Linked DNA regions of Homo sapiens. The protein of the gene in region 2 interacts with the protein of the main gene of each other region in a pairwise test. Each region holds a gene or a part of one and is shown on either strand. Other genes may lie near its edges.

Evidence for each region.
Region 1: the proteins of NRP2 (region 2) and PLXNA1 interact in a two-hybrid assay, tested with the Homo sapiens proteins (one study listed by BioGRID).
Region 3: the proteins of NRP2 (region 2) and L1CAM interact in a two-hybrid assay, tested with the Homo sapiens proteins (one study listed by BioGRID).
Region 4: the proteins of NRP2 (region 2) and PLXNB1 interact in a two-hybrid assay, tested with the Homo sapiens proteins (one study listed by BioGRID).

The regions. Positions count from the first base shown.
Region 1 is NC_000003.12:126,986,111-126,993,133, reverse strand, and holds part of PLXNA1 (plexin-A1 precursor), read right to left. Parts: intron 4,614-7,023; 5' UTR 4,541-4,613; coding exon 3,347-4,540; intron 1,751-3,346; coding exon 1,568-1,750; intron 1-1,567. UniProt on the Homo sapiens protein: Coreceptor for SEMA3A, SEMA3C, SEMA3F and SEMA6D. Necessary for signaling by class 3 semaphorins and subsequent remodeling of the cytoskeleton. Plays a role in axon guidance, invasive growth and cell migration.
Region 2 is NC_000002.12:205,720,500-205,727,522, forward strand, and holds part of NRP2 (neuropilin-2 isoform 2 precursor), read left to right. Parts: intron 1-1,978; coding exon 1,979-2,209; intron 2,210-3,285; coding exon 3,286-3,441; intron 3,442-5,413; coding exon 5,414-5,583; intron 5,584-7,023.
Region 3 is NC_000023.11:153,876,166-153,883,188, reverse strand, and holds part of L1CAM (neural cell adhesion molecule L1 isoform 1 precursor), read left to right. Parts: intron 1-2,470; exon of another isoform or gene 2,471-2,517; intron 2,518-7,023. UniProt on the Homo sapiens protein: Neural cell adhesion molecule involved in the dynamics of cell adhesion and in the generation of transmembrane signals at tyrosine kinase receptors.
Region 4 is NC_000003.12:48,413,077-48,420,099, forward strand, and holds part of PLXNB1 (plexin-B1 precursor), read right to left. Parts: coding exon 6,501-7,023; intron 6,291-6,500; coding exon 6,168-6,290; intron 5,964-6,167; coding exon 5,841-5,963; intron 5,467-5,840; coding exon 5,373-5,466; intron 5,288-5,372; coding exon 5,115-5,287; intron 4,987-5,114; coding exon 4,835-4,986; intron 3,376-4,834; coding exon 3,270-3,375; intron 3,092-3,269; coding exon 2,955-3,091; intron 2,684-2,954; coding exon 2,507-2,683; intron 2,272-2,506; coding exon 2,100-2,271; intron 1,966-2,099; coding exon 1,723-1,965; intron 996-1,722; coding exon 819-995; intron 743-818; coding exon 594-742; intron 462-593; coding exon of another isoform or gene 311-461; exon of another isoform or gene 94-310; coding exon 1-93. UniProt on the Homo sapiens protein: Receptor for SEMA4D. Plays a role in GABAergic synapse development. Mediates SEMA4A- and SEMA4D-dependent inhibitory synapse development. Plays a role in RHOA activation and subsequent changes of the actin cytoskeleton.

The DNA.
Region 1 (7,023 bases), on a different chromosome or scaffold from region 2:
CTGCTGCTCCCTCAGCAAAGCTCTGACCCAAACGGTGCCCCTGGGGCACAAGAGGGTGAGTGCTGGGCAGCAGGAACAGGGTAGGGCTAGAGGAACCTGGTCACTGGCTGGGTAACAGGCTCTGGGGCGCCCCACAAAATGTCTCTAAGCTGCTGCACTGGGCTTCCACACAAGCACGGTCCTCTGTCTGGCAAAACCCACTCCAACACCCACCCCATGCGCTCGAGAGCCCTGTGTGCCTTCCAGTGTGAGGAGAGGGAGTGCAGGCTGAGAGGACGGGAGGGGCCTCGCACCAGAGCCACAGGGCGGTACCCCACATGGGGGCCAAGAGGGAAGTCACAGCAGAGGACCCAACTCAGGGGTCACAGGACTTTCCCCATCAGCTTCAGCCTCATAGCCACTATGAGCAGAACCAGCAGGACCCCAGGGCACCCCCACCCTGGGGGGCCTACAATCAGCAGCTGGGCCCCCACGGGCCCCAAGACCACCAGCACCCCCCGCCCCCAGCCCAGAGCCTGAACATCTGGCTTATTTCACAGAGGGAAGCTGAGGCTGCAGGGGATCCCCTCCCAGAGATCACAGAGCCAGGGAGGGGCAGGACTCCCCACCACTCCCAGGGCAACTACCATGGCAGAGATGGGAGGCCCCCTTCCTAACACTGGGCACCGGGCTGAGAGCTGCAAGCCCTGGCCAGCCCCCGGCCCAGCCCCACTCGCGGGCACACATGGGCTCAGGGGAGCTGCATCGGCACCAGCCTCTGGTGCCGGTTATGCACCCCAGGACCCACCACTGCCCACTGGGCCTCTGGGGTGTCCAAGTATCCCCACCCTTCAGTCTCTCCGGGAGCTTCCTCCACACCAGGCCAGCCTGGTGCCCACCCCAGCCCAGGCAGCTCCCCTCCACCCACACCCTCCAGGAAGCTCTGCACTGCCTCTGTCCAGCCCACTGTTCTGGGGAAGGAAAGGAGAACCCTGAAGACCAGACAGCCATCCCTGTAGCACCTAGCCCTCCCCCTGCCACCGTGGGGCCAGCCCAGGGCTGTGTGCTGGAGCTCCTCAAGCACCAGCCAAAGACAGGCAGGGGCACTACCCTTGCCCTGCCCTTGGCCCAGTAGAGGGGCTGGGGAGAGGCAGGGCCAAGGCCTCTGGCCCGGCAGAGTGCTGAGGCAGCAGACACTGGATCTCCTGGCTGGGGAGCAGGGCCCAGAGGGGAGGGGGCCGCGCAGGCCTGCCCTCACCACCCACACACAGCAGCCTCCCCAGGAGGTCAAGTGCCCTTGGAGAGCCAGCCCCCGCCTCAGCATCCCTGGGCCCCTGCACAGGCTCCTGCGTGGTCTCAAAGTGTCCTTGCTTAGTGGGCCTGGGGCCAGTCATGGGCAGAGGCACAGAGGGGAGTGGGGCCCTTCAAGGTCACTGGGCCTAGTGTAGGGCAACATTCCCCCTGCCCCCTGTACGCCAGATCTAGCCTCCCACAGCATACAGCAGCACTGGGCCTGCCACCTGGGACGGCCGCAAGCCTTTGTTCCTGCCCCAAGCCCCCTCCTCACCCCACCCCACCCAGGCCTGACCTTGCGGATGCGGCCACTTCGCGTGCCGGCGAATACCACAGTGCGGCCCCGATAGTCATAGGCAGCCACGGCGGTCAGGCCATCATCCTTGTCCACGAACAGGGGCGTCCCCTCAATGGTGACTGTGCCCCCCAGGGGCTGGTTGAAGTCCTGCCCGCAGAAGTCGTCATCGATCTGCAGGGGCTGTGGGAAGGGGCAGGGTGAGAGCCACTCCCCGGGCACCTTCTCCCGGAGGACTGGGCCTCCCTGGGCAGGGCTGGGAGTGCAGTTGTCTTTCTAGAGAGGTTGGGGGTAGCCCCCAGAGGAGAGGTGCAGACAGAGAGGGTTTAAGACAGGAGGGAGCAGATCACACCTGAAAGGCAGAGGGCGGGCTCCCAGCTAAGAGCACGAGAAAGCAATCAATAGCTTGAGGTTCCGGAGCAGCTGGGGGCCAGTGTGGAGGGGGCGCTGCTCCACCGCCAGGCCTAAGGAGAGGGCAGGGCAGGCAGGGAAGGGATGTGGGGAGAAGTGGGGCAGATGGTCCTTGTCTGCAGAGGGTTCATTGGCAGGGGCCAGGCTGCTCAGGAGGAAGGAGCAGGGGAGGCTGGGCCAGGGCTAGGCCACATGGAATGAACAGGTGGGAGGGGGCAGTGGGGACTGTCCCCAGGGATGAAAGAGCAGGCCCCAGCCTTGGGGCAGGGCACAAAGAGAGAGTGTGGTGGGGCTTCACCCAGGCTCTGCCCCTACAAGCCTCAGTGTCTCCATCTGTATGGTGCAGAGAAAACACGTTCCTTGAAAAGCCAAGGGGAGGGTGGACAACCGCATCTGCCAAGCACACATGGGCCCTGCCTCACACAGGCAGTGAGCGTGAGACGGAAGGACTGAGGGGCCCTTGCAGTCCCACTCTGCCCTGAGGACAAAACCAGCAACACCCTCAGGTCAGACATGGGAGACTACAGCCAGAGAGGGCGAGGCCTTCCCCTGCGATGGCCAGCGACCCCCAGCAGCAAGCCCAGAAGGCCTGGCCTCGGGGGTCCCAGGTCTGGGCCGAGTCCCAGCCCCTTCACTTTCCACCCTAAGCAAGGCCCGTGCCCTCTGAGCCTGCCCAGGAGTGTGAACAAGACACTCCCTGAAAGGCAGCGAGATAGAGGCCCCACCCCAGCTGTGCCTTCTGATGGGTGCTGGGGGCTGTGGCTCCCTGCAGTCAGGGTCACTTTCTCTGCAAGTTGTTAACTGTGGCCTGCACCAGGACACCATCAGCTCCCATTGCTGGGCAAAAGCAGAGGCCCAGCGGGCAGGTGCCACCAGGGTCATGTGGGGGACACAAGCGCTCCATGGAAATGGTGTCTGGGCTCACCTGATAGGCTCTGGCACCAGCCTCTCACTTGCTGTGTGACCCAGGGCAAGTTACCCCACCTCTCTGATCCTATAACCTCATTTGTAGGATGGGGACAAGATGGAGCAGGCAAGCACCAGGTGTAGGACCAGGCATGTGGCTGGCACTCTGTCCAGTGTCCCACAGGGGCTGTGGACTATGCCAGCAGGGCCTCGTCACCCCATCTTCTGAGGCACAAGACAGCATCATGGCTGGGAGCAGCCTTTGGGGCTAGCACCCTGGGTCCAAACCCACTCTCTGGGGGATGGAAAAGGGCAGCCCCACCTAGCTGAGCCATGGGGATGGCCAAGCCAAAAGCCAGGCCAGGCACACAGCAGGCACCACTGGGCGTGCATCTGACACCGATGCCGTCGTCCCTGGAGGGGATGGGGCCGCGGGAGGAGGGGCGCCCCTGCCCAACTCACCGAGTTGATGCAGCCCAGCTCCTTGTTGAGCAGCCACGGCAGGGAGAGCTTGCCCTCACCACGGTAGCAGGACTGGATGCGCTCCTTAATCTTCTCCTTGATGGCCCTGAGCGTGAACAGGCACAGTGCTGACTCCTTTGGTGGCTTCACGCGGTTCTTCTGGCCCTGGGCGAACACAGTGAACAGCACGTCCTCGTCCTCAGCCAGGCCCAGCTGGTGGGCCAGGGCACGGCCGGGCCGGCTCAGGTAGGCATCCTGCACCAGGCGGTACTCCACACCCGCCTGCTCGCAGCCAATGGGGAACTCAACGTACGAGTAGAATTTGGGGTCGTCCACACAGAGCCGCACGATCTTGGACGTGAAGAAGTGCTCGCCGGCGGCATCAGGCGAGGTCAGCTGTGTGTCTAGCTGCAGCGTGAGGTAGTAGACAAACTGCTCGCTGCGGAAGCTGTACACATAGTAGATGTCAAAGGCCGGGAACTTGGACAGCGTGTCCGAAGGGATCTTGAGCTGTGATGACACAAACTCATCCTGGTACACGAAGCCGAACATGTCGGCATCCTCCTCGTTGGCCATGAGCCGACGGCTGGACAGTGTGGGGAAGTACTCGGACTTGCCATCGATGGGTGTGCCCACGAAGAGCTTGGCCTGGCCCTGGCCCGGTGGCCCGGCAATGAGCACGCCCGCCATGCTGCCTGCCTCCTGCACGCTGGACAGGTAGTGCTCCTTACGGTGGTGTGGCTCACCCAGTTTGAAGAGATCGTCCAGACGCAGGAACTGGCAGATGCCCTGGGAGGCGCTGCCACAGGCCAGCAGGCGGTTAGCGGCATAGTCCAGCAGCAGCAGCTTGTTGACGTTGTCAGTACTGCCCAGGCCGTGGGGGCAGGACTGCACGCTGGGCGGCGGGTAGCACTTCTCGTTGTCCTCCACAGGGCCCGTGACGTGGGCCCGCAGCAGTGTCAGGTTCCCCGACAGCTTATAGATGCGGTTCACTGCGCCCACATACACCTCGCCTGTCTGCTCATGCACCACTAGGTGGGTGAGGCCCCAGTCGCTGGCCGAGAAGGTGCGGAAGGGGGGCTGTGAACCCCCGCCTGCCCTGGGCAAGCCTGCCTCAGCCCACATGCCCGGCAGCAGCAGCAGCAACAGCAGCAGCAGCAGGAGCACCTGCAGGCTCCGCGGTGGCAGCGGCATGGCAGGCTGGGGCCTTGGGCCTCGGTGCTCTGGTCCTGCTGGGGTGAGCATCATGGTGCCAGGAGCTTCAGCCCTGGGGAAGGGGCAGAAGAGGGCATGTGAATGCAGGCATGGCCCATCCCATGATATTATGATCTCCCAGTGTGAGCCCTTCCAGTGCTGGGCGTGCCCACTGCACCTCCAGGAGGCAGAACCTGACCCACCAGGAGGAGCCAGGGGCAAACTGGGCACCTCCCTGGCCTGAGGCCCTATAAGCTGTGGGGTGCACCAGGTATCCCCAGGACACCTGGCAAGAGGTCACTCCGTTGGCACCTGTGCCCTGCCATCACTGGCGGAGGCCAGGAACAGGAAGGCAGGTGACAAGGGCCTGAGGTGTGGAATGGGACCCCAGCTGACACCAACATCTGACACCAACCTGGAGAGCAGCCTTCACCCAGAGCCTCCCTATGCACTGGGGAGCAGGACCCTCCCCACAGCTCTGTACTCCCAGGGTGGGCACCAGCTCCCTGCCTGAGGCTGGTGGGGACATACTCCACCACCGTCCCCTACAGAAGCTTGACATAGATGGGCTTTAGTGCTCACTCCCACCTCCACAGCCCTGCCTCTCCCCCGAACACGCCCTGACAGCCCACAGCAGAGGCACCACGGAGGACATGGAGGCCCAGGCCACACAGGCAGCAGTTCTCACTGTGGATAGGTGGCAGCCTGGGCTGCTCTCGGTGGGACCCCAAGCCCCATGCTGGATAAACCTTGAGACCTGCAGTCCAGAAGCCAGGCAATGTGTCCCACCCACATCCCCACCCCAGCCGACGGGTGCCCCGCCACACGGCCCCTTCCCAGGCTCCCTGGCCCACCAGCCCTGACTCTCAGCACTCTATCCAAGCCACCAGTCCTGCTCCCAGCCTCACACCCAACTCCAAGGAAAGAGGAATTCCTCCACAGGGAAGGCTGGCAGGTGCTCCCTGCACTCCACCCCTCCACAGTGACCCCTTCCCAGCCTCAGCACCCCATACCCACCCAGACCTGTGTGGCCCCCTCCTGCCTTGCTCCACATCGGGCCCTCACTTCCTGGTCACACTCACTACCAAGGTCCATTGACTCCACCCCAAACTCCACAAAATGCCCACCCCTCCTTCCTGGATTGCCAGGGTACTCGGCTCCCTCCACCCACAACCACCTACAGCCAGGTCCCTATGCAGAGGCTAAGGCCACTCTTCTGACCTGCACACGAGGTCAGCGCTGCCCAGATCCTGGCGGGAGTCCCCATATCCTGTCCTGGCCTCCACTGCCTCTGGAAAAGTCTCACCACACCCTGCCTAGCAACTGGCAGCCAAGCACTGGGCTAAATCTAGACCCTGTTACTCTGTAGGCAGATGACTCTGATGGGGACACTCCCTTTTCCTAGCCTCAGTTTCCCCATTTGCAAAAGGGGCATGAAAGCTCTTTTCTCATGGATGAAAGAGGAAAGGGCACACCTGCCCACAAGGCATAGTCAGCAGTGCCACCCCCTTGGTTGTCAGTAGGGCCTGCTGCCCTGGATGTGCCTGATGTGCTGGGGCCTCTCACCCACTCCTGGCTGGAGCCGGCTACAGCAAGGCTGAGTCCTGAGTCTTGAGTTCAAGCCTCAGCCAGCCAGTTTGCACAGACCATCCCAGACACCCCTTGTATGGTCTGGCCCCATTTTACAGATGGGGAAGCTGAGGCCTGAAGATGGATGCCTTCTCCAAGTCTACCAGGGAGCTGGGCACAGTCCCATCAGCCTCTGTGCCTGGTGCCCACATGCAGTGTGGGGCTGCCTGCCCCTCCCCCAGGCCTCTGTGCCCCTGTCTCCACTCCCCGCCCTGCTCAGTCACCCTGTTCTCATCTGCAGCACAGGACTCGTGAAGGGTCTCTATTACTTATTGCTCCCATTCTCCCGGCCAGAATGGCTGCCCTGTGAGAGCAGGGCCTGGCTCTGGGTGGTTGCCACTGCATCCCCAAGCCAAGCCAGGGACCCAGGAAGACTCAATAAATCCCCGTGAGTGAGCGAATGAATGAAGGGTATGCGGAGGGCCAGCCAGGTCTGGGTGCGGCAGCCCCCCATGCTTCTTCACTCCTGTTTCACTCCCCACACACTCCCTGCCCAGTGTGTGCACAGCACACACCCACTGCTCAGGTGGGGAAACCGAGGCTCTCAGAAGCAAAGAGCTTTGGCTGGAATCCCAGAGCAGGAACTGCAGGGTGCTCCTAGCAGGCTGCCAGCTGCCTTTGCCGGACAGCGCCCCAAGAACAGCAGGGGAGGAGTCCCCACTCCCGCCCCCGCCTCAGAGCTCAAGGAAGACCCGGGAGCCAGAAAACAGGCTCCTCACAGTGGCAGTGGGGCCGGGGCTGGGAGCTGAGCACATGTGAACTCCAAAGAAAACATGAATCACTCACCGTTTATCAGTTCAAAGCAGGCCTGCAATTACCAGGGGCTGGGCTCTCCCCTCCTCTGGGATAATTAT
Region 2 (7,023 bases):
CTTCTAAGGGAATGACAATAGAGCAAGCTCTAAGAGGGCATGTCAGGATGCTCTTTCTAGCTCTCAAGCAAGAAGTGAATAGAGAGTTAATTTCCTCACAACCATGTGTGAGGCTCAGCTGAGTGGCCCGCATGAAGAATGCTGCACAGCAGCCATAAACTCTAACCTTTTCAAAATTCCTCTTGGCCCCCTGAAGACCCGCCAGCTGGCTTGGCTTTGCTGAATTGCCTCATCCCGGGCCATTGAGGAGGCCCTCAGGAGTCCGAAGCCCAATCATAAACAAAGCTGGGGGAGGCAGCCCCAGCTCATCCCTCCAGGACTAGCTGCCCATTGAAAACTCGGCCTGACCTGCTGCTGCCATGCATATGAATGATGGGGTGCAGAGCCTCTGAGATTCGCTGCTTAGAGCCTCCACAGAACCCATGCAAAGGTTAGCCCTTGCCCTCGTGTGTTCCTAGTCCCTACCCTGCCAAAGCACAGCACAAGGTGGAAAGTAGGAAGTGATGGATGGATAGGTAGGAGATACTGGAATTTTCTGTCTGGTGCTGAAGAAAGTTGCAACTCCTCCATCCGCATTTATTTGCATGGCACTTCTTCCAAATCAGACATTTGCCTCTTTCCAGAATGCTGTCATCAATAAAGAGACTCAATGAGAGGCCCCCTACAGGAGCTGCGGATAAAGGCATCGCTGCAGGCTCAGATCAGTGTATTGACATCACCTAGTTATATTTCAGTGTGAGCCCCAGAGGACACTTCCTGACAGTAAACACCCAGTTTATCGAGTATTTCTGGTTGGTTGTGTTTTTTATGCTTAGAGTGTCTATTATCCTCCTCAAAAATCCTGCTTCCTTTTCTTCTTTTAAAATCTGAACATAACGAGTGAAATCAATTCTAATTGTCCAGCACTTTCATTCATTGCGTGAATGTGCATGAGCTCGTGCTTCGTGGGTCCATGGGTCTGGGTTGCAGTGCTCCCGGGACCCATCTGTGGTGCTGCCCTGGCAAATGGTGGCTGGTTAAAGCACAAGGACCCTTTTAATATGACTCCACCTAGAGGCATTAAGAGATAGGGTGGCTGTAATCCTCTTATGAGCTCCTGTTCCTGCTCCTGCTGCCATCCAAGCTCGCACCAGGATGCGAATGTGTGCCGCATTTAATCAGGATGCCTCCATGCGTCCCAAGAAAGCAGACGCAAGAGCTCAGGAGAGAAACAAGGCCATCCACACCACAAAGGAGCCAGAAGCCTTCCAAATGTCAATGCACTGCTGCATTTTTCCAAACTTGTTGCCGGAGCGGCCTTTAACATCCCCAACGGCCTGCTGTGATCCACCAGCTAAAAACATCGATTGTTAATTGTCCGACCACTACAGAGCAGCTCGTTTTAATATAGTCATGACATGAATGAGACCCAAGCTCCCCTTTGCCCCTCCCCTGAGGCACCTTGGATCTTGGAGGGAGAAGGGGGCACTTCGTTGGCTGTGGTACAATAGGGGCTAGTGTTGAGGTCAGCAACAAATAAGGGGTAACATTGTTTTCCCTGCTGGCAATCAGCAAGGCTTCCTTAAGGATTGAAATAACTTACATTTCTGGAGTGAGCAGCTGAGTAATTGAGAAAGAAGACTCTGTTCCTCTTTTCAAGAGAATCCCTCTCTCTCTCTCTCTCTCTCTCTCATACACACACACACACACACACACACACACACACACACACACTTCTCTGTACCTCCACCCCACTCCCCAATTCCTCAATTGCTGCTCTCACTCTAATAATTATGTAGAGCAAGCCAGCTGTGCCTCCCTAATTTATGAGGGCTTGAAACGTGCATGTGAAGAGTATGTTGCTTCAAGGGCCACTCCAGTAGCAACAAAAACCTCAAGAGCAGGGGGATTTGGGGCCAAACATTTAAATAACCCATGTGACAGAGGCCACAAAGAAAGGCATCTTCTTCTTAGTGCTACAGTTCTCTTTTACATACAGGCTCTGAAGATTGCTCAAAAAACTTCACAAGCCCCAACGGGACCATCGAATCTCCTGGGTTTCCTGAGAAGTATCCACACAACTTGGACTGCACCTTTACCATCCTGGCCAAACCCAAGATGGAGATCATCCTGCAGTTCCTGATCTTTGACCTGGAGCATGACCCTTTGCAGGTGGGAGAGGGGGACTGCAAGTACGATTGGCTGGACATCTGGGATGGCATTCCACATGGTGAGTGATGTCATGAGGCATTCCTCAGTAGCTTGGCCTTTGCCTGTTAATTGCTTTAGTGATGATAAAGAGGAAGAACAAAGACTTCAAAGCTCCTATGAGTTCTTATATGACCCATGGTGACTTTCTCTTCTTCCCCTTCACTAAGGATAGCTTGAGAGAAATTACAGGAAGGCTGTCTACTTTCTTGGAAATATTTCTTTAGAAAAGGATAGGAGACTAAATAGATACTTGGAAAGGATGAGAAAACTTAAAGTGTTCATTTCTACTCCAAATTGTCAGGATAGAAGGTGGCTCAGTGGCTAACCCCTGTGACAAAACAGAAGGACTCCAGAGCCAGACTGGCCGGGCTTAACTCCCGGCTCTGCTACTCCCCAGCTGTGCAACCTTAGACAAATCCCTTACCCTATCTGTGCCTTATCTGTGTTAAGTTAGCTGCTATCATCATCATTATTACTATAATTTTAAAATTGTCATTAATATAGTCATAAATATTGAAAAGGTACATCACCCAAGGCTAACAGCCACCAGTACTTCGCAGGTGAAGACCAACATGGATCTTGGGTCTAATTAGTATTGGAGAGGAACAAATCTTTCACTTTTGTAGTCATTGTAAGTTTTTTCTAATATAAAGGAGACTTGATGACTAAGCAAAAAGAGCAATTTCATTTCCTGGGTAAATCACAAGACTTAGTCAGAAAACTTGGGTTGTAGGCCCAGCTCTGCTATTTCCTAGCAGTAAGAATAAAGAAATCACATGCGCTCTCCAAACTTCAGTTTCTTCCTCTGTAGAACAGACATTGTAATGATACCTTTCCAGCTCATCTTCCAGGCCACTGAGAACAGAATGAAGCCAGTGAAAGTGGCCTGTACCTTTTTAATGAAAAAGTGAAAGTGCTTTTTGATGTGCAGGAAAAATATTAGCCATTGTTCTTGAAACATATCTTTGGTTTTTATGGCAAGATGTACAAAGTGTGCTCCACTGAATGAAATGCAATGAGGGGAAGGGAAAACGGAGTGAAAACCAAGTTTGACATTTTGATTTCCACTGACTTCTCTTTGTCTTGAATGTCCAGTTGGCCCCCTGATTGGCAAGTACTGTGGGACCAAAACACCCTCTGAACTTCGTTCATCGACGGGGATCCTCTCCCTGACCTTTCACACGGACATGGCGGTGGCCAAGGATGGCTTCTCTGCGCGTTACTACCTGGTCCACCAAGAGCCACTAGAGAGTGAGTTGGCCGATTGGGAACCTCTGTCCTGTCCTTCCGTCAGGGCTGTGAGGGTGTACAGGTGAAGGGGGGCTGAGCTCTTATGAGGGAGGAGATGGGAACTCTACGGAATTTATGGTGGCATCTGAGTTTAGAGGTGCCCACATCCTCTTGCCAGGAAGAGGTTGATGAGAAAAGAACACATTTCAATCTGGGTGCTTCTTTCTTTAAAAAATATATATATGTGTGTAACAAGAATTAGTTATTTTCAGGGAAAGTCATGGTACCATCTCATACCTCAGTTTCCTCATCTATGAATGAAAGAGAGGCTAGTTAGGATGATCTATACAGGGCCCCTCCTGTGCTAACATTTTTTTAGTCTGTGGCCATTTTTTTCCCTCTCAAAATCTCAGGGGCAATTGTCACAAAAGTGAACCATTTTAAACCTCTCTTTCTCTGGATTTTTTGACATTAACCATCTCTGGGCCTGGGTAATGTTTTCCTGACTAGATTGGTACAACTGCTTAGACTTGGACTTCACCCTTCCACCAAAGATAGTTTGTGGAGCTTCTAGTATGTGCCAGGCACCAAGCAAGGAATTAAAAACTATCACTCTGATCACAGCTGCTGTGGGACCTGCAGTCCCTCAGCACTGAGCAACATCTTCAAATCAGCTGCTCTTGGACATGTGTTTCAAATATGCTGCCATTTCTACTTAAAAACCCAAACGATAACTTTTTTTTTTTTTTTTTTTTTTTTTTGAGACAGAGTCTCTCTCTGTTGCCCAGGCTGGAGTGCAGTGGCTCAATCTCACTCTTCCCAGTGCAACCTCCACCTCCCGGGTTTAAGCAATTCTCGTGTCTCAGCCTCCCGAGTAGCTGGAACTACAGGCATGCGCCACCATGCCCAGCTAATTTTTGTATTTTTAGCAGAGGTGGGGTTTCACCATGTTGGCTAGACTGGTCTCGAACTCCTGCCCTCAAGTGATCTGCCTGCCTTGGCCTCCCCAAATGCTGGGATTATAGGTGTGAGCCACCATGTCCAGCCCCACATAACTTTAAAGACTGAAGAAGCACTTTTAAGAAAGATTCAAGCTGTGGAAATCCTACCCTGATTGCAGACAACTCACCATATATATAACTACAGACACGGCAGCCTGGCCTGCAGGAAGGTTGCTGGGTTTTGCATTTGTTTTTTCATCAAAGAGCTTCTGAAGATTGAGTGACAAAGAAACAGTATGGCAAATTGCACCAGGTCCCGTGAATGGTCAGTGCAGTCACAGAGTAAAGAATAGGTTGATACCTGATAAGGATTGCTGGCCGATCTTAGACACATGCACACACACATATCGATCAGTGTTGATGGCATTCATAGAAGGACAGCAATGCAACTGACAGCACAGGGCCAGAGTAAGTGACTTCTGGGTCTATTTGTCCAGACAGGTGGTGCGGGGGAATAGAGAGTGACATGCATGTGCTCATGGAGAGATTTCCCAAAGACAAGTATTTATGCTTTGTAATGTCTGTCTTCTGTGCCAGAACTCACAAGACAGTTGAGTGAAAAAAGAAAGAAGCAAAAGTGCCTCCTGGGTGTTTATTAATAAAGCAGGCTTCCCACGATGTATGAGCTCACCCAAATCGCCACGAGTCTATCTCACATTTACCTGTATTGCAGTAATGGTGCATCTGGCATCTGTAGCCTGCAGCAATAACAGTTCTTGTGCTTTAGATTGTATTTTTAATCTGTATGATGATTCTCTTATTTATCCATAGCCTGATTTCTTTTAGGTCCCATTTAGTTTCTCTCAGACCCAGAGGGGTTGTCAAGCTCCATGACTTGATGTAGTTGTTTTTAAAATGTGAGCATATAATTAGGGTCTTTTAAATGAGGAAGTGCCTGCAAGGACTTGTCCCTAGAAGGGAGGCAGCATTTGGGGGATCCCGAGGTATGAGGTTGGAAGGCCTAACTGCATTTGACCGTCTGCTTTCCCCAGACTTTCAGTGCAATGTTCCTCTGGGCATGGAGTCTGGCCGGATTGCTAATGAACAGATCAGTGCCTCATCTACCTACTCTGATGGGAGGTGGACCCCTCAACAAAGCCGGCTCCATGGTGATGACAATGGCTGGACCCCCAACTTGGATTCCAACAAGGAGTATCTCCAGGTACTTGTGCAGATACCAGAGGATGTGAGAGTGTGTATGTATTGCTGGGGTAGGAGGGTAGCTCCTCAAATACAGTAGGCAGAGGACACAAAGAAAATAAACACAGCATACCTGAGAACTCCATTCATTCATTCATCCAAACAGATGTGTATGCCAGGCACTGGGTTACATGCTGGCATACACTGATCAGAGGGAGCCTGCCCCTGCCCTTGTGGGGATTACTGGGCCTGGGGAGAAGTTGTTTGGCCAGGATGCTGTTTGCCCTATCACTATAGATATCCAAGGAACATTATATAAGCTGTTTGGATCTTCCTCATTCTTGGCACAGGGAGGCATCAGGGACATGGGGGGCATTCTCCTAAGGGGAGGTTTGTTGAGGTGCTAGCTGCACATGACAGCTTCTCATGATCTTTGCTATTGGAGAGAGCCCTGCCAGGAAGGTTTTGCACAGAGCTATCAGAAGAACACATAGGAAAATGTCACTACCAGGAACAGAACTCAAGGTGCCCCAGATGCTCGGCAGCATCTCTTCAGACCATTGTTTGCTTTATTCTGAATAAACCTTGCAGCTCATGTTGAGTAATCTTCCCGCACTGCACACTGCTCCAATTCTCATCCCCTGGGAAGAAGTAAACAGGGGGAAAGCAAGCTACTAGTTCCACACCAGAGCAGTGACTGCTTTTATGACACACGTAAGACAGCCTTGTGACCCACTGACAAGCCTGTCCTAGCTCTGAGGCGACACAGTGACCTCTGCTCTAAGAAGGATATTGCAAAGCAGACAACAGGAAAGGGAGAAACACCACTTAGAAACTCCAGGGAGTCCACAGAGGTTCTAACAGTAAGCCCTGGGGCCATTTGTCATTGTCTCTTCTCTCTGCCTCTCCAAAAATCCATCTCCTCGCAGCCTGCAAAACTTCCAGAAAGTTCTGTATAACTGGCATCCCCTATCTTTGACCTTAATCATATACTTTCGCCTATTGCTATCCACCTGTTTCTCATACGTGTAGACAGCACTATGTACTACTTATTCAAATGTTTAGTAATGCTGAGCACATTGTAGGTCACCAATAAGTGCTTACTGAATTGAATTTAGCCAGTGTGTGCTAGCTACATTTTGGTCATATGGAGACTGCCATTAAGAAACACCATGGCCATCAAAGGAATGACATCCAGCAATTTCCAAATGGGTTTGGCATTGTGGGAGGGGAAGTACCTTAAAATGTTGGCCATCCTCCTCATAGAGCAAAAGGTCAGGACTCGGTGCATAAGCCTAATTGCTTGGGCAGACTCTACATGCCCTTTGACCCCTTAGTGACCTGAGCAACTAAATACACAATGGAGCGAGAGGGTGTGGGGAGGGGATGCCTCTATGAGTGTGACTTTTGGAACTAGGGCATTATAAGTGAGTTGGATTGAACTGGACAGGAGTAGAGTGGA
Region 3 (7,023 bases), on a different chromosome or scaffold from region 2:
TGCCCCTGCCTCACCCTTGAGGGCCCTGAGGTTGTGCCCTGTCCAGCAGCCACTCAGCACCCTTCTGCTGGACTCTACGCCTTGGGGTTGGGCCCAGACCCCCCATGGGGGCCTTGTCTGAGTGGAAGGCTGTATGGGGGGTGCCTGGTGAGCAGCAGCCAGACGAGCACTGGGGGAGGTAGCCCGCCCAGCTTGCCTCTTCCCCAGATATCAACAGGGTCTTTGTGGCTTCCTGAAGGCTGTGGCTGGAAAAAGAGGGAGGAGCTGGGGAGGGTCTGGCCGCTGTTCTTTCTAGAAGCTTTTCTTTGTCCAGTGGCCCCCAGCCCAGGTCCCCGTGTTCTTCCCAGGTTGGAAAGCTGCAGAGGGAGTGCCCAGCCACTGTCAGTCAGCAGCTCCTGCTCATCTCTGGCCCTTACACCCAGCAGGGGCAGCTGCGAGGGCCAGGGGTTGGGTGGGGCAGGAGGGTGGCAGCGTCCTGGGCTCCATGCACTTGGCCAAAGAGGACTTCTGAACCCGTCCATCCCAGTGCGGGTCTGAGAGTGGAACTTGAGGGAAAGGGACTGAGTCCCGGGAGCCCCTCTGCCCCCTGCCCTCCAGCCAGGCAGACTTCCTATCTGCATGTATGGGGTTTGTGTCTCTGCTTGTGTGTGTGTATTTGTGTGTGTGTAACCTCCAGTATTCCTGTTTGTCTGGGTGGGGTCATATATTTGGTTGCATGTGTGTGTGTGTTCGTGAACCAGCATGCACACACATATTGTCATGAGGCCACGTGGGTCTCCTCAGATGCCCCAACAGGGCCTGTGCTGGGAAGGGGTGGGGCTGAGGGTGGCTGCTGCAGTGGCTGGATGGGGACAGAGCCTCTGGCCAACCCAGGCTGTGCTTCAGTGGAGGGGGGTTCCCTGTGGCCCTGTCTCCCAGCCATCTGCGTCTGTGTTCATGACTTAGGAATGCCCAAGCCCTGGGGATCACAGAGGCCCCATTGTCCGCCCCCGGGCTTCCTGTGTCCCCCTCTGCCCTTTAACCCCTCGGGAGTGGGGCCCCTGGAGGGGGCCCGTGGGGCCTGGCAGTGTCTGAGCTGTTTCCAGGCACCCCCACCCCGCCCCCCGCAAACCAACACAGGCTAGGTATCCCAGGACTGCTGTGGGCCAGGGCCTCTCCCTGCCCCAGGCTGGGCTCCTTCCCTGCTCTCCTTTTCAGGCCACAGCCCCAGGAACTGGATGCAGTCTGTTCCTTCTGGCCTGGCCGCTGAAGCCCCCTCTAGTGCTAGGGTCATCCTAGCTCCCTGAGGAGGCCTGGGGCCTGAGAGGAGCCCTAGTTTTGCTGCCACCTCATTTCTCTCGCCTTCTAGGGGTCTCGGAGGCTGAAGCCTTGCCGCCTGCTGGGCATCAGTATCTCCTTCGACACAAGAATGGGGCCACTGCTGTCCCTAAATGCTGATTGGAGAGGGGCCTCTTTGGGAGGGGTTCTGGAGCCTCTGGTTGCAAGAAAGGTATCAGAACAAGTCCAGATTCCAGAGAGCAGAAGAGGGGACCAAGAAACCAGCCTGTCCCCAAGCCCAAAAGGGAAAGGAGTTGGCCTTCTCTTGGACTGAGTACCTGGATGGGGGACTTGGGGGTTTGTTTGGTGTCGGGCTTCAGCTCTGTGCTGAGACGTGATGTTGATCACATCCTACTTCCGCATGGCCTCCATCCCAAGATGTCACTCCCTGCCCCCGACATTTGCCTGCCATCTGCCTGGCAAGTAAGCCCTCCCCACGGGGCAGGATGGCTTGGAGGCCATCCTCGCCCAGGCCCCTGGTTCCCTGGGAAGCCCAGCAGGCACACATGTTGGGATGCCAGAGCCTCTGAGAGGCAGCTTAGGGAGCCACCACGCCCTCTAAAACCCCACCCCTGCTGAGACCCAGTGCCAGCTCTGTGATCTTGGACACAGTTTCCAGTTTTCTGAGCCTCCGTGTCCTCATCTGTAAAATGGGGATGATGATAGCACCTCCCTCCCTGAGGCAAATCTGGGGAGGAGATGAGTGGATGTGAGTGGAAGTGCTCATGAGGCTTTCTGGTACGTGGTAAGTCCACGCTGTAAGTTGATTTAATAGAACAGACCACAGAGGCATGTGATTGTGGGGATGGAGTGGGGCTCCTCCCTCCCTTCCCCAGTAGTCAAGACCGTCCTCCCTGAACCCCACAAAGGGTTAACCTCCGTCTCTTTTCCCCATCTTTTAAGGAGAATGGTCCATTACAGGTGAGTTGTAGTTGCCTTGGAGACTGAAGCCTCAGGCGAGATGAGGGGGCTGAGGGCTCACTCTCTCCTAAGGGTACCCTCTTAGGGAGGGGTGAGGTTGGGAGTGCAGGGACTAAGCAGCAGTCATAAAGGACTTCTGGGCCCCCAGGTACCTGTGGGGGCTCCCTGGAGCAGCCCCCTTTATGTGCTGTCTACATAACACATAACAAGGCTTTCCTCTGGCTTCCCCCACCTCTGGGACTTGGGCTGCATCACCATAGAAACCCGCCAGCCACGGCCTGGGGAGCGGGGCGGGGAGGGCCAGCGGGAGCCTTAAAGGGACACAGTGCACAGGGTGTAGGTGACACCCACACCATCGTATACACACCAACAGGCACAGAAGCCCCCCAGGCTCCCAGGCCTGCAAGCACATGGGCCCAGCACCACACTCTGACCCTTTCATGTGCCCTGTGCTGAGCCCCCAGCCCCACCCCCACTCTGGCCCACTGAGTCACCAGGCACCATGTCCCCAGGAGACAAGGGCAGGAGAAGCCGGATAGTCTCTGCTGTGCTGTTGAAGGGCTCTCTTGTTGCTTCTCCTTTGAGAGGAACTCCAGGCAGAACCTGAGAACTGACAGGCAGGTGTGCAGGGCACATGTGCAGGGCACCGCTGGAGGTTCCCTTCTCAAGGTGTGTGGTGGTGGTGGTGATGGGGTGTGTGTGTGTGTTTTCAGGGAGGAGGCAGTCACTCCAGGTCTAGCCAGGCTCCACAACCTCCCAGGTCCCTCCCTGGCAAGCTGCTTCCCATCAGACCAAAGCAGGCACTTTGGAGCAGAGGACAGAGGACTCCCTGAGGGACCTGCGGGTGTAGTGGGAGGCCAGGTGGGGTGGGATGGGGCAAGGCTCTTCTGGGGCTGAACCCCTCCCTGTAGGCTGCTGGGCGTGACCCTTGCCTCCCTGGCCCTTTCCCACCGGGGAGGATGGGTTTGGGACCGGACTTACTCAGGAATGGCCCCATCTTCAACTGCCCCAGCACAGCGGCCACTGTCCACTCAGTGCATGGTCACGCAGGCTCACTCTTGGCCTAACACATGTGCGTCTCCTCCAGCCAGGTGACCACTTACTCCCAGCCAGCAGCAATATTGGAAGGCTTCCCTGGGATTTTCTGGGTGCTTCCCCCTCCCCCCGTTCCTACCCGCAGCAGGAATCCCCCGACCCCCACCTGTTCCCTGGCATGGCATGGGTCAGCCAGCAGTGTGCCATTCATCCTGTCTCACGGCCGTCCCTTGCCCAGTGCCACAAGTGGGCAGGGCCTTGATGCTCTGTTGCGTGGGGCTTTGTAGGCCCCTCCGGCCCCAGCTCACAGCTGCTCCACCCTCTGTCTGTCTCTCTACCCTGCTCCCAGGCCAGCGTGACGTCCACGCCGGGAAGCCCCTCCACTGACCCAGGCCCATCTTCCCTCCTCCCCGCCCCTTGCCTGGCACAGCCCCCAGGGACAAGGACGCTGTGCAGGCGGCCTGCGCGCACGCGCACGTGCACACGCCCACCCCCACCCCTCACTCTTCTCGCTCTTTCTGCCATTTCTCAGCGGCGCACTCTGCAGCTGCCTCTCACCCTTTGTGCTCCGGTTTCCTCTTCTCTCCCTTTCTCTGCTGCCTGGGTCTCCGTTTCGGAATTTCCCCACCCCCTAACCATCTCCATCGTGGTTAGCGCTGTCTTCCTACGTCTGTCTTTGTCTCCTGCTCCCCCCTGCCTCTTCTCACTCTGTCTGTCACCCTTGGCAGACCCGGCCTTGGCTCCATCTGTGGAACACTCCCCCCTCCCCGCTCCTTTGCCCTTAGTGGTGCTGGTGGGGGGTAGAGGGCCTGCTGAGCTGACAACCCTAGCTGCTTGCTCTGTAATTGCCTGAGGAATGGTGAGAGATCAGAGACCCAGCAGCAGTGGGAGGAGAGGAGGGAGCGCCCCCTCCCAGCTGTTATATCTCGCAACCTTCTGGCTGCTTCCTGCCTGTCTCCGACTGCCCAGGGCGGTGGCAAGCTAGGTGGCAAATACTGGGAGACCAAAAAAGAAGTTGGATATGAGCCTGTGGGGAGATGGGATGGGGCTGGGATGGGGCAGGGAGCGGGGACCAGGGGTTTGGGGATATTGTATTTCCCCTGAGCGTACATGCCAAACACCATTCCAGGATTCTAGATTTGGAGGACAAATAGAGGAACTTGCGTGGCAGAAATTATCGACCTCCAGAGCACCCAAAAGCCTCTGACATGCAGGAGGGTCCTTCTTTGAGCTTTTCCTTGCTCCGGTTTCCTCCCCTCCCCCTCCTAAGACCAGTGCTCAGAGCTCCCAAGGCTGCTGTTTGATCATCTGCTCTCTGATCCGAGTCTCCTACTGCTCCTACAGGCCTTGAAGTTGAGGCCAGTGCTGCCTGGGGCCTCCCCTGATCCACTGGCTTTGTAGGGAGAGGCCGGGGTGGAACAGATCCACTGTTGCTCTTCCCTTCTGGGCCCAGGTCCAGCTCTTGCAGGCTGGGAATCACTCTTCTTACCCTCCAAGTCATCTCTTGGCCTCCAGGCCATGCACGCTGACCCACCCTGCTGCTTCTCCACCACCCTCTGCAGCAAGCTCTTGCCCAGAGTCCCCACGGGATCTGCCGCATTCACAGCTCTTCTTGGGTCACTCTGTTACACAAAACTGACAAGGCCCAGAGCCTTAGCACAGCATGGCTGACTTCTCTACCATCCTTTCGGTGTTCCTGCTGAGGCTCGGTGCCCGCTTTGATAAGGTCCTGGCTGGGCAGAGGGAGGATGCACAGTATGGATTTAATGAAGGCGTCTAGTCTGGGACTTCAGCCTCCAAGCTCTGTCACCTAACAACACCCTTTCTTGCCTTGCCTGCACTTTAACCACTTCCTGTTTGGAATTGAAGTGGTCTGGCCACTTGGGAGTCTGTTTCCTCTTGTCATTGTCAGAGGAGCCCCCTCTTTCAGACCCTTAGTCTTTGGCTCCCCTTACTTGTAGGTGAATATGGACATGGCCGGTGTGGCTTGGGTTTGGGGTGGACACATGCAGCAGTTGAGCTCTGAAGACTCAGACAAAGACCTAGAAATTGGGACTTTGAGACACACAAGAAGTGTTAGAAACACTGTCACGGAAAATGTCCCAGAGCTTGTCCTGACCCCTGTCCTGACCCTAACCTGGAGCATCTGGAAGGGAGGAGGCCTCAGTGGCCTCTCTTGACCCCCAGGGGGCTGAGGAGCAGCAGGGGGTTGTTTTCCTCCTTCCTCTCTTCTCCCACACCAGTTCTCAAGGGAAGGCTTCCTTCCCCATTCTTTCTCTCTTTTTTTTGAGATGGAGTTTCGCTCTTGTTGCCCAGGCTGGAGTGCAATGGTGCGATCTTGGCTCACTGCAACTTCCGCCTCCTGGGTTCAAGAGATTCTCCTGCCTCAGCCTCCCAAGTAGCTGGGATTACAGGAATGCACCACCACGCCAGGCTAACTTTTTTTTTTTTTTTGAGACAGAGTCTTGCTCTGTCACCCAGGCTGGAGTACAATGGCGCAATCTCCGCTCACCGCAACCTCTGCCTCCTGGGTTCAAGTGATTCTCCTGCCTCAGCCTCCTGAGTAGCTGGGATTACAGGCATGAGCCACCACGCCTGGCTTTTTTTTTTTTTTTTTTTTTTTTTTTTGTATTTTTAGTAGAGACAGGATTTCACCATGTTGGCCAGGCTGGTCTCAAACTGCTGACCTCATGATCCGCCTGCCTCAGCCTCCCAAAGTGCTGGGATTACAGGCGTGAGCCACCACGCCCAGCCCTAATTTTGTATTTTTACTAGAGACAGGGTTTCACCATGTTGGCCTGGCTGGTTTTGAACTCCTGACTTCAGGTGATCCACCCACCTCGGCCTCCCAAAGTGCTGGGATTACAGGCATGAGCCACTGTGCCTGGCCTTTTATTTTTATTTTTATTTATTTTTTTAGACAGAGTCTCACTCCATCACCCAGGCTGGGGGGCAGTGGCACGATCTTGGCTCACTGCAACCTCCGCCTCTCAGGCTCAAGTGATTCTCATGCCTCAGCCTCCCAAGTAGCTGGCATTACAGGCGCCCACCACCAAGGCTAATTTTTTTTCTTTTTGTATTTTTAGTAGAGACGGGGTTCCGCCATGTTGGCCAGGCTGGTCTCAAACTCCCAACCTCAAGAGATCCACCCACCTCAGCCTCCCAAACTACTGGGATTACAGGCGTGAGCCACCACGCCTGGCCCTTTCCCCATTCTTTCTTCATTTTCCTGAAACTATTTTGTGAAATGCTGCCATCTTGGGCCCCTTTCCTCCCTTCTCTATCCCACTTCCCAATCCCCCCATTAGCTTTTTAGGTCTGTACAGCACCCAGGCATCAGTTGGCTCTGAAAGCTATAGCAATGTGACTGCAAGAAGAATTCTTCTCTACATGTGTGTGCACACAGAGATAATAGATACAGGGATTCATCCCCACAGATACATAAAGACATACAAGAAGACACACGTAGCTAGCAGACTTGTGTGTTGATTCCCTCAGGCACACACACTAACACACCCACTCATGAGTGCAACCCCTCCCAGAGAAGACACACCACAGAAATACCAGCTCACATACAGCTCACTCCCTGCTTGCAGATCCACAACCACACACATGCCCACGGACACCTGCACATGCAGACACATACGGGGATGTGCATGCCATGCACAGGGGAGCTGATGGGGCAACAAGTTGGTGCTGGGAAGGCAGCTGGCAGGAAAGGTGCAGACAGAGAGTAGAGAGGGAATAAAA
Region 4 (7,023 bases), on a different chromosome or scaffold from region 2:
TCCTTCTTGCAGCGGTCCCGCACACTGCTCTCCAGATTCTCCAGCTGGATCTGAACCTTCTTATAGTCCCTCAGGGCCTGCTTGCTCTTCCTCCTGCTCAGCCCCAGGGTCAGGAGAGGATGGCCAGATGAGTCCTACTCGCCCAGGCCTGCCTGACAATCCCCAGGCACACCCCGGCCTCATCCAGCACAGTCCAATGCAGCCATGCCAGCCAAGCTCAAGCCTAGCCCAGTACGATTCAGCCTGTCCCGTCCCAAGCAAGTCACACACACCCATGCCCCGTCTAGCCCAGCACAGTTTAGCCTAGAGATCAGCCAACCACAACCAGGCCAAATCCATCCCACAACCTATTTTTATAAAGATTTGTTAGAACACAGCCACTTTCATGTGTTTCCATGTCGTCCCTGGCTGCCTTTGTGCCACAGTGGCAAAGCTGAGTTGTTGAACAGAGACCACTTGGCCTGCAAAGCGAAAATATTTACTCTCTGGCCATTTACAGAGAATGTTTCCTGACTCCTGGCCCGGTCTGTCCCTTCCCAGTCCAGCCAGATCCCACGACCTGCCCCAGCCCAGCCACATCTGGCTGCACCCACCTGTACATGAGGACAATGATGATGACACCCAGAGCCAGAAGAGAGGTGCCCACCCCCAAGCCCACCTGGGCTGCCACAGGAAAAGCCCCAGGGCTCTCGCCGTCATACTGCACGTGACCCAGGGAGAAGCGCAAGTTCCCCATCTGCACCTGTGTCAGGAGCCACCTGTGAGCAAGGGTTTGGCCCAGGTCAATGCCCAGCCCGGCCAGGGACCTGCCCACTGACCGTGAACTCAGGCAAAGAGTCAGGTGCCTCTCGGAGGGCATGGTGCCGTGGCAGGGGCTGCTCCACGGGGGGCTCGCAGTACAGGTGGTGCCGCGTCAGCGTCTTCACCACACAGGGGCCATCCCCTATCATAGCCACCACCTCCTCCTTGGACATTGCAAGGTCCAGGTTCTCCCCCTGGAACAGAGGGTCACCGATCAGTCACTCAGGACCCTTCCCTCAGATCCTGTCCTCCCCAAATGTGGGAAGGACCCTGAGACCCAGCCGCAGCAGCAAAGCTGACAGCCTCTCAGCACCCTTCCCGAGTGCAGGCCAGTCACACGGTGTCCTCCAAGCTGCTCCTCATCACCCTTTGTTGCCCTTTCCTATCTTTCTTCTCCAGAACGAAAAATCTGGAGAACATAAAGCTGCCTCCCAAATCCTGCCCAGCTACCTAACAAAGCTGGAGCCCCCAATCTGTGTCTGATGACTCACCAGGGGGGTGATGATGCTGTATCAACCTGTGGTCTGCCCGCATGCCCATCTGCTGCCCACTGTGTATGTCCAAGACACATGCCTAGCGCATGTCCATGTGAGCCAGGCTGCCAACGGGGGTCAGCCCGATGGCCTATGTGGACCACACCACCCAGCTACTGCACAGGCCGAACATACAAATGCAGTCATTCCAGAGCCTGCCATGGAGTGCATCAGGACCCGGGCCACCAGCCAAGCAGTCCAGCTCGTGCCAGATGCTAGGCTAGGCACCCCCCACCAGCCCCCTCTGCCCCCACCACAGCAAGGATGAGGAGCCATGTCCATCCACCGGCCCTTGCTCTACTGTCTCGGCCTCTCCGCCACACACAGCAGTGCTGTCCAGCCAAGGGAAGGGTCTCGGGGCCCTGCCAGGTCCAAGTAGGAGCTGTACCTCCACGGAGAACACACTCCCAGGCTTGTGCCGGAATGGCATGGTGGGGTCCTCAGGGTTGAGTGGCTGCAGGGTGGGGTCGGCCTCATAGGAGAAAGGTGTGGGGTTCAGTGTTGCAAAGTCAAAGACCAGGTTGTCAAGGATAAATTCCACCCGGACCCAGGGGTCCTCAGGCAGGCCTGGGAGGGCAGGTGTGCGGCACGTGATGAGCTGGGAGGAGTTGACATGGCACGGCTCCTCAAACTGGAAGGAAGACAGGCAGGTTGACGAGGGGCCAAGCAAAGATGGGAAGAGCCTCCTCTGGCACCTGCTCTGGCTGTCCCCAGGGTGTGGTATGGGGCAAGGGGAGAGTGTGGGGGTACCCAAGGGTGTCCTACTTGCTGGCTACTGCAGGAGGGTCCAAGGGAACATGCCGTCTCCGGGACCACGCGACGCCTCCGTCCAAGCCCCTGGCTGGGCTGCAGCATTCTCGAGACCACGGTCACCCGGATTCTTGGCGTCTGTACCACGTCCAGATTCTGGCCACGGACGCATATCTCACGTCCTCCACTGAAACAGACCGTGAGCTTACGTAACGTAAGATGGCTTATGTTACCTGGACCTAAAGCACAGCCCAGTCCCGGCTAGGTCAGCTCAGCCCCAGCCCCAAACCACACGACCCCTTGCCCCTACTAGCAGCATGGGATTCTCAGTGCCTCAACATAAAGCCCTACAAACCCCCACATAGTGGAGCTGCAAAGACCTCCCTGCCACCTGCCATGCAGCCACACCCCTGGCCCAACACCTGAGGAAGCTCTTGGTGGGGCCAGCAGAGGTGATGTTGGGGTCCAAGGTATACTTGAACTGTCCGCGTTGAAGCCTCCGCTCCGTGGCCCCAAACCACACAGCCACAGGGAGCGTGGCAGGCGTGGGGCGTGGGCTGGTCTCACACCGCAGTTGTTCTGACTGCTGCTCCGGCAGCCTGGGAGGGGAGGTGGGAATGAATGCAGGGGCGCAGGCAGGGAAAACTTGGACCACTCAGGCCCCAACTGGCTTCCCTCAAGCGCTGACTGCAGTCTCCACCAGGTGTCCCTGGAGGTGCACTCCCACCACAGCTGGCTAGGGAGGGTCTGGCCACTCTCTGAAGGAGCAGACTGGCCCTCTTCCCCTTTCTGCTCTCCCCAGGATCTCAGACCCCTCCATCTTTCCCCTGGAGCAGATGGATTTTTGCAGGATGAGGAAGTGGCCCTCACAAGTGACAAGGCTGGTCTCCAACCACCACTCGGATGTCCTCCAGCCGCCCAGTCAGGAGCTTGGAGCCATTCAGGGTGAGACGGGTGCCCCCAGCTCTGGGGCCGCGGGCCGGGAAGATGGAATGGACCTTCGGATCCTGTGGGACAGACAGGGAGAGAGATGAGCATCAGACCAGACACATGGAGGCAGGGACAGCCTGAGAGACAGGCTGGCCCAGGACTGGGAGCCCCACCAAGGAATAACCAGATGGGTTGAGAGGAGCCACCAGAGAGGTTGGCCCGCTGGCAGCTGGGGGTGGCTCAGCAGTCAGGTACCTGGTAGGCAAAGTCGTGTTCTGAGACACCACGTCCTCTTCCCGGCACCTCCACCGCTGTGGCGCCGGCCACCTCCTCCCCACTGGCCCCGGTGATGCACACGAGGCTGTAGGCACAGGGCAGGCTAGGGGGTGCCAGGCTGCATCAAGGGCCCCTCAAGCTTACCTGGCAGCCCCTCTCCCTGCCCTACTGTCAGGTGGTCTTCCCCTTCCCATGCTCCATAAGATTGACAGAGACCCTCTCTCACTTTGGAGGGAATTCTTTATGACACATCAGAAGGCCTTGGTATCTGAGAATTAATATTTGTGGCTTCAATCATTTAAGTTCAACCCCAGGGGCCCCCAATAAGGAAGAATTTATCTGTGGCATAAATTTACAAAGGGGCCCTGTCAGCCTGGTTGTGGGGCGAGCTGCTGAGCAAGTGAGTGGGCACAGCTAGCCGCCCATGTCCTCCGCCACGTCACATGCACAGTACCCACTCAAAGCATGGTAGAAACTTGATTTATTCAGGAAAAAGAGTCCCTGAAAGCCTCTAGTCAGACAGGGAAATACAGGTGAAGGGAAAGTGAACCATCTAAGAAAATGCTGGTTCTTAGCCAGAAAATAGAAGCTTGGGCAAATTAAACTTCCAGAGTGTTAAGCCTGCAGTGGCTCAACTCAGTGACATTGTCACAGTTGTTGCAAACACTAGGAAGACACAAGTGACGTGTGAGCCACCCAGGGGAGGCTCCAGACAGAATATATGCTAATTGCTTCATAAATCACAGCAGTCTTATGGTCTGGAACACTAACAGTCTAGATAGTCACCGTAAGTTCTCGGTCATAACACATTCAGGGGACACTCCGTGCTCCAGGAGAGTGGTTCCTTGTTTCAAATACAGATTTGGGGGCCCCACCGTGGGCCTCCTGAATCCAGATGTTTGTGTTGGTTTGGGACAGGATCTGCAGGTTACCCTGATATTCAGCCACGTTTGGGCCCTGCTGCTTATGGACATCTCCTTAGGAATGTCCTGCGTGTGTACCTTTGGGGCCTGCAACCGCTGGCCAGGTTACCATAACCCAGGAGCCCCAGGAAGGCAGCAGGGGTCCCTAGAGACGACAGTGGAGCCTGGCCCTCGGCCAGTGTGCCTTTCTGAGGTGTGCCTTCCAAGTCTACCTTCCTGAAGAGCCTGGCAGCCCAGGACAATGCCTGGGGAAGAGTGAGCTGGTGAGAAGGCCAGCCCCTGAGCTTATCTGTCTGATCTGAGGGTCCTGCTGCCACAGCTATTAATATATCCACAGTCCCTCAGAAGACCAGGTGAGCAGAGCAGGAAGCAGAGCCACGAGTCAGTTCTGGGCAGTGACGGGCCCAGGAAGGATTCCCCAGCAGCCCAGGCCAGGAACCTACAGGTGTGGTGGGTGCTCAGGGTCTTCAGTGGCAACGCTGGCACTCGGGCATTGTGGCCAGGATCAAGGAACAGGGAGAGAGGGGGGCAGATGAGCGGTGGGTGGGAGGCCCCAAGCAGCAACGCCAACCGCGGAGGCCCCAGGCTGCGCCGTGCTCCTGCTGGGTGCAGCCAGCTTACCTGCTGGAGACCTCGTACTCCTGGGCATCCACAGCACAGGGCACTCCAGCCACCGTGACCATGCCCAGCACATCCTGCACATGCTGGCCCAGGTTGGAGCCCCTGATGGTGACACGGGTGCCTCCGTCTACAGGCCCAGTCAGTGGCTCCACCTGTTCCAGGACAAGGACTGCTCACCTCTACTCAACTGGAAAGGCAGCCCCAACCTCCCACCTTTGGGCCCCCACACCCTCCCTCTAAGGGCAGCACTGAGGAAGGGATGGCCAGCCTTTCAACAAACCGAGTGGATGAGGGGCGCTGGGCACTGGGTGGCCACAGCCTCAGCCTCACCACAGGCCTCCCGGGTCACACAACGTGGACGCTCCCCCTCACACCACACACAGCCATACTGGGGCATGGCAGTTTGGCAGCGGCTGCAGTCTCCATGTCCCACGGAACAGTCATACAGTACCACTGGGGGTGGCAGAGACACACGTGAGAGGCAGGCCTGGGAGAGCCCTGCTACCACCGCCAGCCCAGCAGCCCGCAGGTGGCTCACCATGCAGCCCCTCAGCACTGTCCACACGCAGACGGCCGGCCCGACGCAGAAACAGCCCCACACGGAGCTCCGGCTGCAGAGCCTCATAGCTGAGCTGGAGAAATGGGAGTGGGTTCAGAGTCAAGCACTGGGGGAAGTGTCAGGCCTGGGGAGGGGTTAGTCAGAGAAAGGACTAAAACGACCAGTTAGGAGCATAGGGTCAGAGGGACCCCATGGGGCCACAAGTTGGAGGGCAGAGCCAGAAATGGAGTATGGGGACCCCATGGGGTCTCAAGTTAGAGTTCAGAGCTGGGATGCAAGGACTCCACGGGGCACATGGTCAGAGGTCAGAAATGGGTGTGGAGACTCCCTCAGGGCGACACGGTCAGAGCGTGGCTCTGGAAAGTGTGGTGCAGCCAGCTACAGTTGGCAGCCAGCCTGTGGCCAGTGCAGTGCACCCGTGCCCACCCAGGCGCTCATGGTGTGCACCTGGTGCTGCTGGCAGGTGACATGGCACTGGGTATCTGGAGGTGGCTCACACTCGACCCGGGCCTCAACCACCACCTCGAGGCCCTCCAGCTCCATCACACACTCATTGTCTCCTGGGCCATCCTGAGGGCAGAGAACACAGCTGTTGGGCAGCTTCAGGAGCTGGGCCCAGGGAGTCCTGCAGGTCACCCAACAGATCCCCCAGCACAGCTTCTGGGTTGGAGTTGAGCCCTCGGACTCTGCCCTCCTCCTGCTCCCCAGGGCTTGTGCAGAGTTTCTCAACAGCTAAGGAGGCTGCAAGGACAGCGGCAGGCAGGACACACTGACCTGGAAAAGGTGCAGGTTCCTGCCTAGCAGCCGGATTTCCCGCTCCACATGGACCGGCATCAACGTGGAGCCCTGAACGCTCTCCACACAGGGGCAGGAGCTTGCCCCCAAGGTCGCCTCTTCCTGCAGGCACCAAGGGCAAGGCAGTCTATGGAGCCCACCCTGCCCAGCTCAGCCCTCTGCCTTGCCAGATTCCAGAGGCAAGGCCGGTGTGGGGCTGCAGACTCCACCCTGCCCCTCACCTCCTCCCAGTGCAGAATCACAAGGCAAGCTAGGGGTAGCATCTTCCCCACATCCCCTCCCCTGAGGCCTCCTTCCTGGGCTGGGCCTCACCAGCTCCCAGAGCCCGGGGGTGTCATACTGGTAGTCGAGGCTGGACGGGAGGATGAGGGGGGCGGGAGGGCCCTCAAGCTCTGCTGAGTCTCCATCACCTGAGAGGAGGGTGGAAGTGGAGAAGGCGGGTGCGTCACCCCCCGTCCACTCGTCCGCCTCGGGCAGCTCGCCGCCTTCTCTCGTGAGCCAGTCCAGGGCGGGCTTCACGGAGCCCATGGCCCCTGGGAAAGTGGTGGCAGGAACAGTGGCAGGGGGCAGGTCCAGGGGCACTGTGGGATGAAGAGCCTCGGGGCCAGGGTCTGCAGGGGGCACTGCTGCTACCTCTGAGGGTGACAGCGGGGAGGCCAAGAGGTCCTCAGGTGTGGCTGAGGGTCTGAAGTCAGTGGGGGCAGGGACAGCGGTTCCAGGTCCATTTTGGGGGCTGGGAGGGGAGGGCTCCTCATGGAGAGGCGACCCTGTGGAGCCAGGGGAAGATATGGAGCCAGAACCTGCCCATGGCCCCCAGGGGCTGAGCAGGGAAGGA